Homo sapiens: one gene and its partner. The protein of the gene in region 1 binds, or shares a complex with, the protein of each later gene. Each region holds a gene or a part of one and is shown in the gene's direction. Other genes may lie near its edges.

Region 1 (7,024 bases):
CTCAGGAGTTCGAGACCAGCCTGGGCAAAATAGAGAGATGCCACCTCTATACAAATAAAAATAATAAAATGAGATCTGCCTTAGAGCTTTGAATCAGAGTGGGCCTTGCCAGCCACTGCTTCTAAACTGCTGCTACTCCCTCCCTCACACTTCAAAAGTCTGTCCTTCTGCCAGGCCTAGAGAGCTGTCTTTGTCAGATCTGAGCATCCCTGTAAGTGACTCAATGGCAGTGGAGACTGTCTGTCTCTAGACTGTGCAACCAGTTGTATATGAGCTCAGCCCTCCCTGGTCAGTCACCATATCCAAATGCTTTGAAAAGCTTCAAATGCCTTGCAAATGAGAAGTGGAATTTTTCCTTTCTCAATGCCCTCTGCAGTGGAGACAAGAGCTCAGTCCTGCCCCACGGCCAGTGGATTTCCAATATGGCTGAAAGAGTTGCTAAAGCGGCAAGGGCGTTTTAGCGGGTTAGGATTCTTCTTTCTACTGTGATTTTCATTTTCATCAGGCCAACTCCACCTCCTCTTTTGGCCAACATTTCCTTCGTCTTCCCCAAATGTCACTACCATTCCAACTTTTAGGACGTTATCTGCATGTGGCTCCTTTACATGGGGTCTCTGTAGGGGTGTTTCCCCACATCCACCCCTGCCTGGGAACTTTGAATGAAGGTTCTGACCGTCGCTCCCTGTTGCCTTCAGGAGGAAAGCTCTCCGCAGTCCGACATCCCAGCTCCTCCTAGTTCCAAAGCCCCTGGAAGACCCCAGCTGTCACCAGGTGAGTGGTCCTGGAGCCACAGCCTAGGTCTGGGTGCAGCAGCATGCCAGGCTGCTTCCTGAGTTCCTCTCCCTGCCTTCCAGGAAATTCTGGTTTCTTCTTCTCCCAACATGTCACTCAGCTAATGACCACGCAGCCCCAGAATCCCCCTTTCCTGCACCACCCACCCCAAACATGAAATCAGTGCCCTCTCTCCCTGCCTTCTGCAGAACACTCACGGGGCTTGGGTGAATGCAGCTGGTTCCTGAGTGACTCACGTAGTCACCAAACCCCTTGATCATTAGGTAGGGAAACGATGTCTCAGGAAGAAAAGTTGAAGTAACTATACCTGCTTATCTCTGAGGGGCATGGAGTGGCTGTTTTCAAATGTCTGAGGCACTGTATCTGGAAAAGAAATTGCTCTGTGGAGCCCTGAGGATGAACAAAGAACCAATGGGCAGATGTGAAATGGAAATGTTCTCTCTGAAAGGCTGTTTCCTAGTGTGGAGAGGGCTGTCTTGGGAAGTGCACTTGAAGCAGATTCTGGATAAGCGCTTGGTAGAGACGCAGAGTGAGTGGTTGGCCAGATTCTAGATCAATGATTGCCACACGCGCCTGATCATCAGAATCACTCGGGATGTCCCTTCCCCCATTTTTATTTTGAAAAATGTCCAACCTACAGAAAAGCTGACAGTAGAATACAATAAACATCAGAATATCTTTCACTTAAACTCACCAATTGTTAACATTTTGCACCATGAACTCGCCCTGCTCCATTCTATTTTTCTCCCCCGAGCCAGTTGAAAAGTTACAGACTCGTGACACTTCACCCTACACAGCTGCAAAAACGCAGTCTCCTGCATAATCACAATAGAATCATGGTATCTAGGACACTAAACATTCATATGATAGTATTATATAATGTATATTCCATATTCAAATTTCTCCCGTTGCTCCTGCTCAATGTCCTTGACAGGTTTTTTGTTGTTATCTTTTGTCTAGAGGCTCATCAAGGATCACATATAAACCTAGGATGATTTTGTGAATACAGAGTCCTAGGCTACTGGCTCTGATATTTTAGGACTGGAATGGGGCTCGGGAATTTGTATTTTAGAAAAAAACTTCCCATGTGATTCTAATGATCAGCTAGGTTTGAGATCAGTGGCCTTCTCTGATCATGTACCCCCTATAGTAAATATCTTTATGCATGCTACTCTTACATAAATTAGATTAATATTAGATTGCTTGATTAATAGATTAGATTAAATTAATAAACTTTAGGAAACATACACAAAAATAAAGAATAAGGTGAGGATCAGTGGTTCTAATACTTCTTCCTGTGGCCTCTGGCTCACCTTGCACTCCGATTTTCATTGCTTTGGATCCCGTGGGCTTAATTGACCTTTGGGATCCCTGCTAACCTTGTGGGTTGGTGAGGATATGCTGGTCCTTTGGTAATTACCTATAGGCTCCCTAGAAGCAGAGACTGAGTTTGTTCATGTGTTCATGACCTTCATGCTTCCCCAGGGCGAGATTTTCCCCACAGTTTACTAAGGTTAATAATTGCCCCACAAATTAAAGGGTAAGAGGTTGGGGGCCCTATTTGAAGAGGTTTCATCTGTGTGTGGCAGGGGCTGGCCAAGGATGTTCATTCACCATCTTCTTTTGTTTTACTCCCTACTTTTTCCATTCAGGCCAGAAACAAAAAGAAGAGCCTAAGGTAACATTTTTCCCTCATACTGTTTCAAGTGGTAGAAGATGGGATAGCTTGGGCTATCAACCACAGACATGTCTGTCTGGATTATAGGAAGAGCCCCAAAGGGAGGGTCGAACCAGTTGCTACCTTACAGAGTCCATGAGCTAGGGACCTTCTTAATAGCCTCCTCCACTATCATGCACACACTTCCTACTACCCAAGCTAGTGGGCCAGATCTTACTCAGTAGGAATTCCTGTCCAAGCAAGGGTTGGGCTAAAGGACCTCTGAAGGCCTTTTAGGCTACTGTGAAACCAGTTACTTACTGGCCTCTCCCCTGCTGTATTGGGTACCCCCTGTGCCAAATCACGAAACTGCGGTGATCCAGGATGTTGAGAGAAAGCCTCAGACACTCAGGAGTTCCCTTTGTTTCCTCCCCACTCAGGAAGTGAAGCTCAGTGTTCCCATGCCCTACACACTCAAGGTGCACTACAAGTACACGGTAGTCATGAAGACTCAGCCCGGGCTCCCCTACAGCCAGGTCCGGGACATGGTGTCTAAGAAACTGGAGCTCCGGCTGGAACACACTAAGCTGAGGTGAGCTCCATGCAGGCAGCTGTGAGGGGTACAGTGGGAACCTTGTGCTGGCCTGGAGGAGGGAAGAGGAGGATGGTTTTTGTGATGATGTTCTTTGACTGGATTCTTACTCATTATCCCCACCCAGCTATCGGCCTCGGGACAGCAATGAGCTGGTGCCCCTTTCAGAAGACAGCATGAAGGATGCCTGGGGCCAGGTGAAAAACTACTGCCTGACTCTGTGGTGTGAGAACACAGTGGTGAGTGCAATGAGGGGCATCTAAAGTTACATTTCCACTGAGCCACTTCCTCAACAATTTGAAATTTATCAAGCACCTTCTGTGTACTAGGCACTATATGTGGTGTTGGGGATATGGTGTGTAATAAGTCACAGCTCTGCCTCCCTTTTACCTGCATCCTCACCCCATTTGCAGCAGGGAGAGAGTTTCCCACAAGAGAACAGCAGGCCCAGCAGGGCAGGAGCTCACAGAAAGCCTCCTGCCCCTCCATCAGCTCCCTGCCTGACTGTGTCAAACATCCCATCCATTACTGTCAAGCAAGGTTGGAATGAAGTCATATCATAGCTTAAGGCTCAGCTCATAGCCATTCTTCACCTTTTTTTTTTTTTTTTGAGATGGAGTCTCACTCTGTCGCCCAAGCTGGGTGTGATCTTGGCTCACTGAAACCTCTGCCGCCCAGGTTCAAGAAATTCTCCTGCCTCAGCCTCCTGAGTAGCTGGGATTACAGGCACCTGCCACTGCACCCAGCTAATTTTTGTATTTTTAGTAGAGACGGGGTTTCACCATCTTGGCCAGGCTGGTTTTGAACTCCTGACCTTGTGATCCACCTGCCTCGGCCTCCCAAAGTGCTGGGATTACAGACATGAGCTGGGAGAAGAAGAGTGAAAGAGAATGAGCCTAGAAAAGGGCAGTGTATAAAGCTGTTTAAGGTATCTTCCCCGTTCAGAAAATTGCCTTCAGGAAATACAGCCACTGGGGATGAGACTCCCTGGTGTCTCTGGCTGAGACAAAAGGCCCCAGGATCCTGGGGGTAAGAGTGAGTGTGAGTGTAAGGGGTCTCTTGGAAGTCTGAAAAGTCACTCTAGGTTTTCCAGCTGTCTGTCTTTGGACTAACCCCTTCAGCATCTTTTTTAAAAGATTCTTCCTAGAAGGAGTTCTGCTCTAAATGTGAACTACTTCACTTAAACTTTTTTTTAATTAAAATTTTTTCCTTTGACAGCAGCTTCAATCTATTTGGTGGCTGCACATAGCCAACCCTCTTACAACTCCCCACAATCTTTTGCAATTTAATCCAGGCTCAGGAGTCACTGTTGAATGTTCTTTATCACTATCCATTACTTTTGGAGGCAACAAAGCAGGCTTTCACTTACTAGGAGAAAGAAAACCAGGCGCAGTGGCTCATGCCTGTAATTCCAACACTTTGGGAGGCTGAGGCAACATGGTGAAACCCCATCTCTACTGAAAATACAAAAATTAGCTGGGTGTGGTGGTGTGCACCTGTAGTCCCAGCTACTTGGGAGGCTGAGGCAGAATTGCTTGAACCCAGGAGGCGGAGGTTACAGTGAGCTGATATCATACCACTGCACTCCAGTCTGGGTGACAGAGAGATTCTGCCTCAAAAAAAAAAAAAAAAAAAAAAAAAAAAAAAAAAAAAAGAGGCCTGGTATGGTTTATGCCTGAAATCCTAGCACTTTGGGAGGCCGAGATGGGCCAGATCACCTGAGGTCAGGAGTTTAAGACCAGCCTGGCCAACATGGTGAAACCCCATCTGTACTAAAAATACAAAAAAAAAAGAAAAGAAAAGAAAGAAAAATAAAATGAACTAACATTTATTAAGCATCTACTCTATGCAGGAACACTTACCATTAACCAAGTCTAAATATTTATACATATTTAGAAGAGTACTGCCACAGAGTAAGTGTTCAATAAATGTCAACTACTATTATTGTATGTCATCTCATTGAATTCTTCTAGCCTCAATTTCAGGTGAGGTAACTGAGGTTCTGAGAAGTTACACTGCTTGCTTAGGGACACAGAGCTGGTAAGCAGTGGAGGTGGGATACAAACCTTTCTCTGTGGACTCTCTAGGGCCATTTCCACCTCATTGTATTGCCTCTCAATAAAAATATACCAACGTTCAACAAACAACATTAAGAAGCTAGAACTTATAATGCTCGGTACATACAAGCCTAGCAGCATTTCTAATGTTGATTTGTTAAATTCTATGATTCACATCTGTAGAAACCGCATCCTTCTCCTTCATTTGTGAAGCAAAAGTGACAATAATGTGGAAGAAGTCTAAGATCATAAGTCTAAGATGTATAAGAAATGTTGTTACAGATAAAACAAGTATGGCATTGTGCAGTGGTTTTTGAACTTTAGCAAGTATCAGAATTCCCTAGAGGACTTAAAATACAGATTGCAGGATTCACCTTCAGGGAGTTTCTGATTTAGTAGTTTTGGGATGGAGTTGAAAGTCTGCATTTCTAACAAGGTCCCTAGTGTTGCTGTTAGAGTTGATGCTAAGAAAGCCAGTTTTGACTTAGGGCTCTGTCCCCATCTGTAAAGAAATAATAATGCCCATTCTACCTGTCTCAAGATTATTGTAAGGTTTCAGTAAGATATTTTAAGACTGTATATGATTTTGCAGACCTTTTGGTTTCATTTATCCCAGGGGTCCCCAACCTCCAGGCCACGGGCCAGCACAGGGCTGCACAGCAGGTGAGCTGCAGGTATACTGGCCTGAGCTCTGCCTCCTGTCAGATCAGCAGCAGCATTAGATTCTCATAGGAGTGTGAACCCTATTGTGAACTGTGCATGCAAGGGATCTAGGTCGCATGCTCTTTATGAGAATCTAATGCCTGACGATCTGAGGTGGAACAATTTTATCCTGAAACCACCCCCCAACCCACCACCCACCACCATTCATCTAAAAACTGTCTTCCATGAAACTGGTCCCTCGTGCCAAAAAGGTTGGGGACTGATTTACCCAACCATCCAGTATTCATAAAGAGCATATAAGCTCTACACAAGGCACTGATCACAAACTTTATGAGTTTATATCCCAGGTTCTACTTTGACATTTCGCTGTTTCCTTTAGTGATGTTCAGTGTTCACTTGGCAGGAAATTGGGAAAATTAACAGGCCCTTTATTATTTCAGGGTGACCAAGGCTTTCCAGATGAACCCAAGGAAAGTGAAAAAGCTGATGCTAATAACCAGACAACAGAACCTCAGCTTAAGAAAGGCAGCCAAGTGGAGGCACTCTTCAGTTATGAGGCTACCCAACCAGAGGACCTGGAGTTTCAGGAAGGGGATATAATCCTGGTGTTATCAAAGGGTAAGTGCTACTCCAAGACTATAGAAACAAATTTACATGTTAGCAGAAACAAGGTCAAGGGCAGAGAGAAGAAAATATCAATAATCTACAAACAAAACTTTAGCCAGTGTTTTCAACCCCCTTCCTAGCATCTAGCTGGAGGGAGCAAAGTTGAGCACTCAGACTTTCCCTGTCTATTGCTCTAGTAGCCAGGAAAGCAACAAGAAGCTGAGTTGTTTTGTTTTTGTTTTTGTTTTTGAGACAGAGTCCCCCTCTGTTGCCCAGGCTGGAGTGCAGTGGCACAATCTCGGCTCACTGCAACCTCCCCCTCCTGGGTTCAAGCAATTCTCCTGCCTCAGCCTCCTGAGTAGCTAGGATTACAGGCGCCCACCACCATGCCTAGCTAATTTTTGTGTATTTAGTAGAGATGGGGTTTTGCCATGTTGACCAGGCTGGTCTCAAACTCCTGGCCTCAAGTGATCCAACTGCCTCGGCCTCCTAAAGTACTGAGATTACAGGCATGAGCCACCGCACCTGGCCGGCGATAAACATCTTGATTATTAAAGAGGAGTATGCTTTGGAAACCATGGATTCTCATTCCCAGAGGTAACAAATTGGGCTGGAATCACTTTGCCTTTGCATCAAGCTGTATGACCTTCTGCAAAC
Region 2 (6,930 bases), on another chromosome or scaffold:
TTCACAGGCAGACGTGTCAAGTACCAGGCACTTGGGGTCACAGCTCCACTCCAGTGTGGCCCTGAGGGCCTAGACTGAGCTCTTGGAGAGCCCAAGGCCGCCTGGCAGACCAGAGGGTTGGGGAGACAAGGGTCAGGCACCACGTGAATAGCCAGGGTGACTGCTGTGGGTTCCAGGTGGCGTACACCTTTGACGCGGGCCCCAATGCCGTGATCTTCACCCTGGACGACACTGTGGCTGAGTTTGTGGCTGCTGTGTGGCACGGCTTTCCCCCAGGCTCGAATGGAGACACGTGAGTGTGGACCCCGCCCCTCCTCCTTTTTGGGAGATGGTGCCAGGAACTCTGGTCGGAAGAGACGGAGGCACCTGAAGGCTGTGGCGCTGAGACAGGGAGTCCCAGGGCAGGCAGCAGTCCCCCGAGTGTGGGAGCCACGGGCAGGGTGTCCCCATAGAGCCATCCCACAGCCCACGTCCACAGGGAAGAAAGAGAGGCCGCTCACGCGTGTGTGAGCAACGCCCAGGGTCTCCCACCTCCTGAGTGACAGCGTCCCCTGCAGCTCGGGACCCCGCAGGCTCTTATTCTATAGAACAGTGGCTTAGGAAACACGCCTGCACTCCCAGATGTGTGCGTAAGTGTCCGACATTTTGAAGGAAAGGAGTCAAAGCCCCTGATTTCCTTCTTACTGAAGCGAGTTAGAGCCAGTCAAGGCGGCCGGGTGTTGACCCCGCCCCGGCAGTTGGGTGTCTTTTCTTGGGTGGGGTCCGGCAGCTGCATCTTGGCGCCACAGAGCCCCCATGTACGCCCTCCTCGGTGCACAGCTTGGCCCTGAACCGCCTCTTCCCCTGCGCTGCTCTGTGGGGGTGCCACAGAGCCCCCATGTACGCCCTCCTCGGTGCACAGCTTGGCCCAGCCTCCTTACGCCCCGGGGCTGTTGATTTCTTCCCTCCCGTGTTTTCATGGTGTCTTATTCTCAATGTGAGAGGCGCCTCCCATTTAAGGGTGTCTGGAAGCGTGTGGGGATGTGCGTCTGTCCCGGGTGGGAGCAATAACACCTTCTAATGGTCAGGGGCCTGCCCTGTGGGGTGGACTCAGACCCACACCCCAGGACTGCCCGCCTGGGAAGCACCAGGCTCGTGGCTGCTGCTCCGGGTGGGGCTTGCAGGCTTCCGCTGTTCTGCAGAACACGGTGACGAACGCACCAGCTTGAATTGGGCGCTTCCCTGAGCTGTTACCCCATGGGGCTTGGCAGCACCCTTGGCCAGATGTGGGTCCAGCCTGGGCATAGCTGTTTACCACATAACCTAAAATTTCCTGTCTCAGCCATTCGAGAGCATATAATCCTGCGGTGTTGAGGACATTCACAGGGTCATGTGAGCACCACCTCAAGCCACCTCCTTAACTTTTTCATCACCCCTAAAAGAAACCTGTCCCCACAGCAGCCACCTGCCGTCTCCCCCTCCCTGAGCCCTGACGGCCAGGAATGCACTTCCCATCTCTGGACTTGCCTGTTGTAGACTGTTGTAGACGCTTAGAGAAACGGATGCATTCACCGTGCCCCTGCCCTGCTTTTCCAGGTTTCTGAAGGGGCTGCAGGTGAGGCCGGCCCCTCTCTCAGCTGAGCTTCAGGCTGCGCTGGCCATGGAGCCGACCCCCGGTGGGGTCAAATACATCATTGTCACTCAGGTGAGGCCTGGGGCTCACCCAGTACCCCGGGGTTTCCTTTCCTGCCAGGGGGGCCCGCCCAGCCCCCAGGGCCCTTAAAGGCTAAGCGCGGCTCCCTGTCCCTACCGTGTCTCAGGCAGGAAGCCAGAACGCCTTTGTCCATTCATTTGCTCTCAAAGTGGACATTACAGGCCACTGGTGATGCTCAGAGCAGCAGGGCTGCGCTGAGGGTGGGAGGGTGAGTCTGACACAGGCTCCCAGGGAGACAGGTGGGGAGTATCAGACCCTTGAATAGGGAGCGCCTGGGGTGGGGGCTGCTGGGGTCCCTGGGACCCCCCCACCCCAACCACCCCAGCAGACCGGAGTTCCTGCCCTCTGACCTGCTCCGAGGGCCAAGCTTGCATCCAGTGATCACGGCCGCCCAAGCCATTGCCGCCACCTTCCTCTCAGGGGCTGCCTGTTCCCAGGCTCTGTGGTTCTCTGTCCCCCCTGTGACAGAAGCAGTGCCCAGGGCAGGGGGCTCGCAGCTGGCAGGGGCGGCTGTGCCTGCAGGAGCTGCGTGTGGGTGTCACCACTCAGGCGCTTTACCTTCTGACCAGGACCCACAGGAAGGGCGGGGGCACACCGCTACCCTCCTGTGTCCGGCCCTACAGATGCTGGGCACAGGATGAGGCGCTGCCATTCCTGGTGACCTGACATGGATTTCTATCCCCAGGTGGGGCCAGGGCCTCAAATCCTGGATGACCCCTGCGCCCACCTCCTGGGTCCTGACGGCCTGCCGAAGCCAGCTGCCTGACTGCCTCAGCAGGGACCGCATGCCGCTTGGAGAAGGGGTGGCCTCGCCGGAGCTAGGGAGCGGATGTGGTGGGCTGGCCGGACTCCTGGGACATGTGGGTGGTGGCTTGACCCCGGGCCCATGGGCAGCTTGCTGTGGGGCAGTGCAGGGAGTCCTGCGGCCGCCCAGGTGTCAGGAGAGGTCCCCGCCGAGTGCTTCAGCTGCCCTAAGCTGCACCAGCGCTTTGCCAAGATGGGATGGGGAGGGGGTATGAGAACTGGCAGAGCCTCGGTGCAGCAGGGCTGAAGGGCTTTCTCACCCCAGCTCTGGCTATGCCCAGTTCTCTGAGAAAGGAGCTCAGTGGGGAGGTGGTCCCTCCAGCGGACCAGGGAAGGGGTCACCGTGCTGGGAGCAGCCTCCTTGGGCCTCAGGAAACCACCAAGTGCCTCGGATGGTGGCTGCCCACGGCGCTTCTGCTGAGACCCTGCCCCCGGCCCAGGTGTCTCGGAGGGTGGCTGCCCACGGCCTGGGTGTGGCTGGAATGGTGGCAGGAGTGGGCACCAGTGCGGCCCCGGTGGCCATGGGGAATAAACCAGCATTGCTGCCTCCGGCCTCCGCCGTTTTTCTGTTTCGTAAACCAGCATCCCGGGGTTCCTGCTCTGAGTGACCCTGGCACCTGTCAGGGAGTCCAGGTGTGCCCCATGAGGGCCTGGGGGAGGGGCAGGCTGGGCAGAGCCACAGAGGGGCTCCCCTCAAACCCCACATTGGCTCAGGTGGGACCCTCAGGAGCAACCCCAGGTCTAAAGTCTTCCCATGGGCGCTGGGCTCACCACCCCCACGCCAGCCCCTGCCTCCCGTACCCAGGCCGGACGTGACGGGGCCGTCCCTGCATTCTGTGCTTTCCCAGTTGTACACATCCTGTCCCCTCCCTCGAGTCTCAGTCACAGTTCAGTGACCTGGTGACGGGAGGCCCCCTGCAGTGTCTGACCCAGGCCACGCCTGTGCCAGCCCAGAGCCAGGGGGAGGAAATGGGGGCTGGGCCTCTGGTCCCCATGGGGAGGCCACCCTTGTCCTTGGTAGCATCAGGGTGCAGAGGTGTTCCCGGGCTGTAGGGGTGACTCCCCCACCCCCCAAGGCTCTGGAGAGGCCGATTTGCTCAGGAAGCCGACCTTCACACCTTGTCCTGCTATTAATAGACGCCTGGTTGACACGGGACCCTCGGTTGGGTCCGGAGCATTGGGCAGGGGCACTTGTCAGTGTTTGAGAGCTGAAGTTTGGGAAGCCCTGGGGAAGCGCAGGAACTCCCCGCCTGGGCTGGGGCTGCCGGGCAGGGCCCCTCCTATGCCTCGGCGTGGCTAGAGAGGGCGGGGGCAGAAGGCTCCGGGACAGCCCTGCACCCTACAGATGCGGGTCTCCGCCCAGCCGCGGTCACCTGGGGGGCTGGGGGCGGGGCCTGGGCGGGGCGGGGTTCGGCCGGGAGCGCAGGGGCGGCAGTGCGCGCCTAGCAGTGTCCCAGCCGGGTTCGTGTCGCCATGGGGCAGATCGAGTGGGCCATGTGGGCCAACGAACAGGCGCTGGCGTCCGGCCTGAGTGAGTGCACGTCAGGGACGGTGGAGGCTGCAGCCTGGAGGGGTGTCCCAAGACCCCAGCCGGGACCTCGGGCTACTTACAGGGTGGGGAAGTGGGGCGCCAGGCGGGCCAGGCCGGGCCGGGGTCAGGCCAGGAGGGTGCGGGGAACGGGGGCGGGACCCTCAGGCCGCGGGCTGGAAGGAGGAGTTCTGAGACCCCCAGTAATTCCCTTGCAGACCCTGCGGAGCGCGGCGCCCCTCCCCCATTCCCTTCTCTCGGTCCCCCGACTCCGCGAAGGAGGAAGTTGCAGCGCAGGGGAAGAGGCGGTTCAGCCCCGGTGGTTTCCGGGGTCACCGCCCCGAAGCCCCCGAGTGGGGGCTCCGGCCTGGGCATCGGGAGAAGCTCCCCTGCCCCTCGGTAGCCAGCTGGCCTGGAGGTCGCTCTCCCTGGGCTTGGGGTGGGGAATGGGCTCATGCCCTGGGGCTCAGCCCTTCTCATCTGGAGTCTGCGCTGGAGGCGGTCTGAGATTTCACAAGGCGCCGAAACCACCCAGTGACGGCCCTGCCCAGCCCAGCTGCACAGGCACTTTGCTCTTGGGGTGGGATGGCACAGCCCCCAGTCACCCTCCTGTGCATTTGCTCAGAGGTTCTGGTGAGGGCAGCGGACTCCATTTGGAAATGGACCCTCTCGGGACCAGGGCCAGGGAGTGTCTGGCCCAGCACGGGTGAGGCTGGGCTCAGGCGAGGTCTGAGGGCAGAGGCACCACTGCAGCAGCTCCAGGAAGGACCTGCACCGGGGGAGGAGTGCCTGGGAAGGGCCTGGGGGCTGAGGGTGAGGAGGAGGGGCCCGCTGCCACCACTCCCCTGGGGCTCTGAGCGCCCTCCCTGTTGTCTGGAGGGTGCGTGGCAGCTGGAGTGGGAGCAGAGACCTCAGGGTGGGAGGGCTGGAGGACGGGGCCCTGCAGCCTGTCCTGTGCCCAGGAAAGTGACCGCCTGCTTCGAGTCAGCGGCCAAGAAGTCGGTGGGTCAGTTCAGACAGCTCTCCCCAGAGCTGCCCCGTGAGACTCACCCTGCCTGCCCCGCACTCCCTACAGGAAGTAGACGGACTGAGGGCACCCAGCTGGGAGCCAGGAGACCTGGGCTCTAGTCTGGCCTCCTGCTGAAACCCTCCAGGGGCTCCTGGCCCGAAGAGTTAGAGCCAGACTGGACGCCCTGCACTGCCCGCCCTGGCCTCCCGGCTCTCCGGCCCCCTCCTCCAGCTGCCGTGCTTCCTTTCTGTTCCTAGATCTCCTGAGCGTGCCCCAGGGCCTCGGCACAAGCTGCTGCTTCTGCAGAGCCTCATGGCTGTCTCATTTATTTCTCAATTCAAATGCCACCTGCCTGGGGAGGTCCTTCCAGACCGTGCAGCCCCAGGAGGCAGCTGGCCCGGAGACAGCAGGGCCTTGACAAAGAGTCCCCCCTGTACACAGCAGGTGCTCTGTAAATGTGGCTGGGTGCCAGAATACGTCCTCAGACCTCCCTGGTGGCACCAGCGGCAGCTTTGCACCCTCTTTCGGATGGCAGGCTCGGGACCAGGACGGTCCCCAAAGATGCATGGACAATTGGCTGAGTAGACTCAAGGACACTGCCCTCCCCTCCTCCGACGCAGACAGACAAACCCAGAGAGTTAATGTGTAGCTGGGCTCAAACCAAGGATAGGAAATCTTCCAACAAGACCATGTGGAGACAAAAACAGAATGGCTGGCAGGGCAAGGTGGCTACACCTGTAATCCTAGCACTTTGGGAGGCCAAGGCGGGCGGATCACGAGGTCAGGAGATCGAGACCATCCTGGCTAACACAGTGAAACCCCGTCTCTACTAAAAATACAAAAAATTAGCCGGGTATGGTGGCAGGCGCGCATAGTCCCAGCTACTCGGGAGGCTGAGGCAGGAGAATCGCTTCAACCTGGGAGGTGGAGGTTGTAGTGAGCTGAGATCACGCCACGGAACTCCAGCCTGGGTGACAGGGCAAGACTCTGTCTCCAAAAAAAAAAAAAAAAAGAAATAAAATAGTAGGAAGGACCAGGCGCCGTGGCTCATGCCTGTAATCCCAACACTCTGGGAGGCCAAGGCGGGCGGATTCCCTGAGGTCAGGAGTTCGAGACCAGCCTGGCCAATGTGGTGAAAACCCTGTCTCTAATAAAAATGTAAAAATTAGCTGGGCATGGTGGCGGGCGCCTGTAGTCCCAGCTACTCAGGAGGCTGAGGCAGGAGAATTGCTTGAACCCTGGAGGCGGAGGTAGCAGTGAGTCGAGATCGCGCCACTGCACTCCAGCCTGGGTGACAGAGCAAGACTCCGTCTCGAAAAAAAAAAAAAACAGTAAGGGGGAATATTGGACAATACCCCCCCAAAAATGTGCAGAAATAGCCATATCAGACGAAACCGAAATTAAGGCAAAACCGCTGACGGGTTAAGAGGAACTCCGTATCGGGGGGAAAAAGACACTCCCCCAAGAAGATGCAGAAACCACACTCGGCCTGTTAGCTTTCAGTGCATCAAACAAAGACTCATGGTGACAAGGGGGTCCATTTGGGGGTCCCAGAGCCCACTGGGGCCTGCAGGTCGGGCTGTCCTTGGCCACTCCTGGGACCCAGAGCCCGGGCATGTCCAGCACCCCCTCCGCCAGCCCGTGCGCCACAGGCTCTGCTCTTCACCAGTGCAGAGGGGTGCCTCCTGGGGGTGTCCCCGACCCTGTCACTGTGCTGTGGGGATGGGTAGGGGGCAGCTCTGGGTGGCCTGGTGGCCCACAGTAGGTAGAGAAGGGGGGTGGCCCAGGCCCCCGGGACGGGAGCCCCACAGTGCCTGACCCACTTCTCCCCGCAGTCCTCATCACCGGGGGCATCGTGGCCACAGCTGGGCGCTTCACCCAGTGGTACTTTGGTGC

What was found.
Region 2: NCF2 (region 1) and CYBA share a complex: the UniProt entries of both Homo sapiens proteins name them as parts of the phagocyte NADPH oxidase complex.

Annotation. Positions count from the first base shown.
Region 1 is NC_000001.11:183,559,451-183,566,474, reverse strand, and holds part of NCF2 (neutrophil cytosol factor 2), read left to right. Parts: intron 1-695; coding exon 696-771; intron 772-2,444; coding exon 2,445-2,470; intron 2,471-2,889; coding exon 2,890-3,041; intron 3,042-3,168; coding exon 3,169-3,280; intron 3,281-6,201; coding exon 6,202-6,379; intron 6,380-7,024. UniProt on the Homo sapiens protein: Subunit of the phagocyte NADPH oxidase complex that mediates the transfer of electrons from cytosolic NADPH to O2 to produce the superoxide anion (O2(-)).
Region 2 is NC_000016.10:88,648,054-88,654,983, reverse strand, and holds the start of CYBA (cytochrome b-245 light chain), read left to right. Parts: upstream 1-3,930; 5' UTR 3,931-3,970; coding exon 3,971-4,028; intron 4,029-6,869; coding exon 6,870-6,930. Other genes in the region: MVD (diphosphomevalonate decarboxylase), read left to right, coding at 177-292, 1,576-1,684, 2,379-2,459. UniProt on the Homo sapiens protein: Subunit of NADPH oxidase complexes that is required for the NADPH oxidase activity that generates, in various cell types, superoxide from molecular oxygen utilizing NADPH as an electron donor.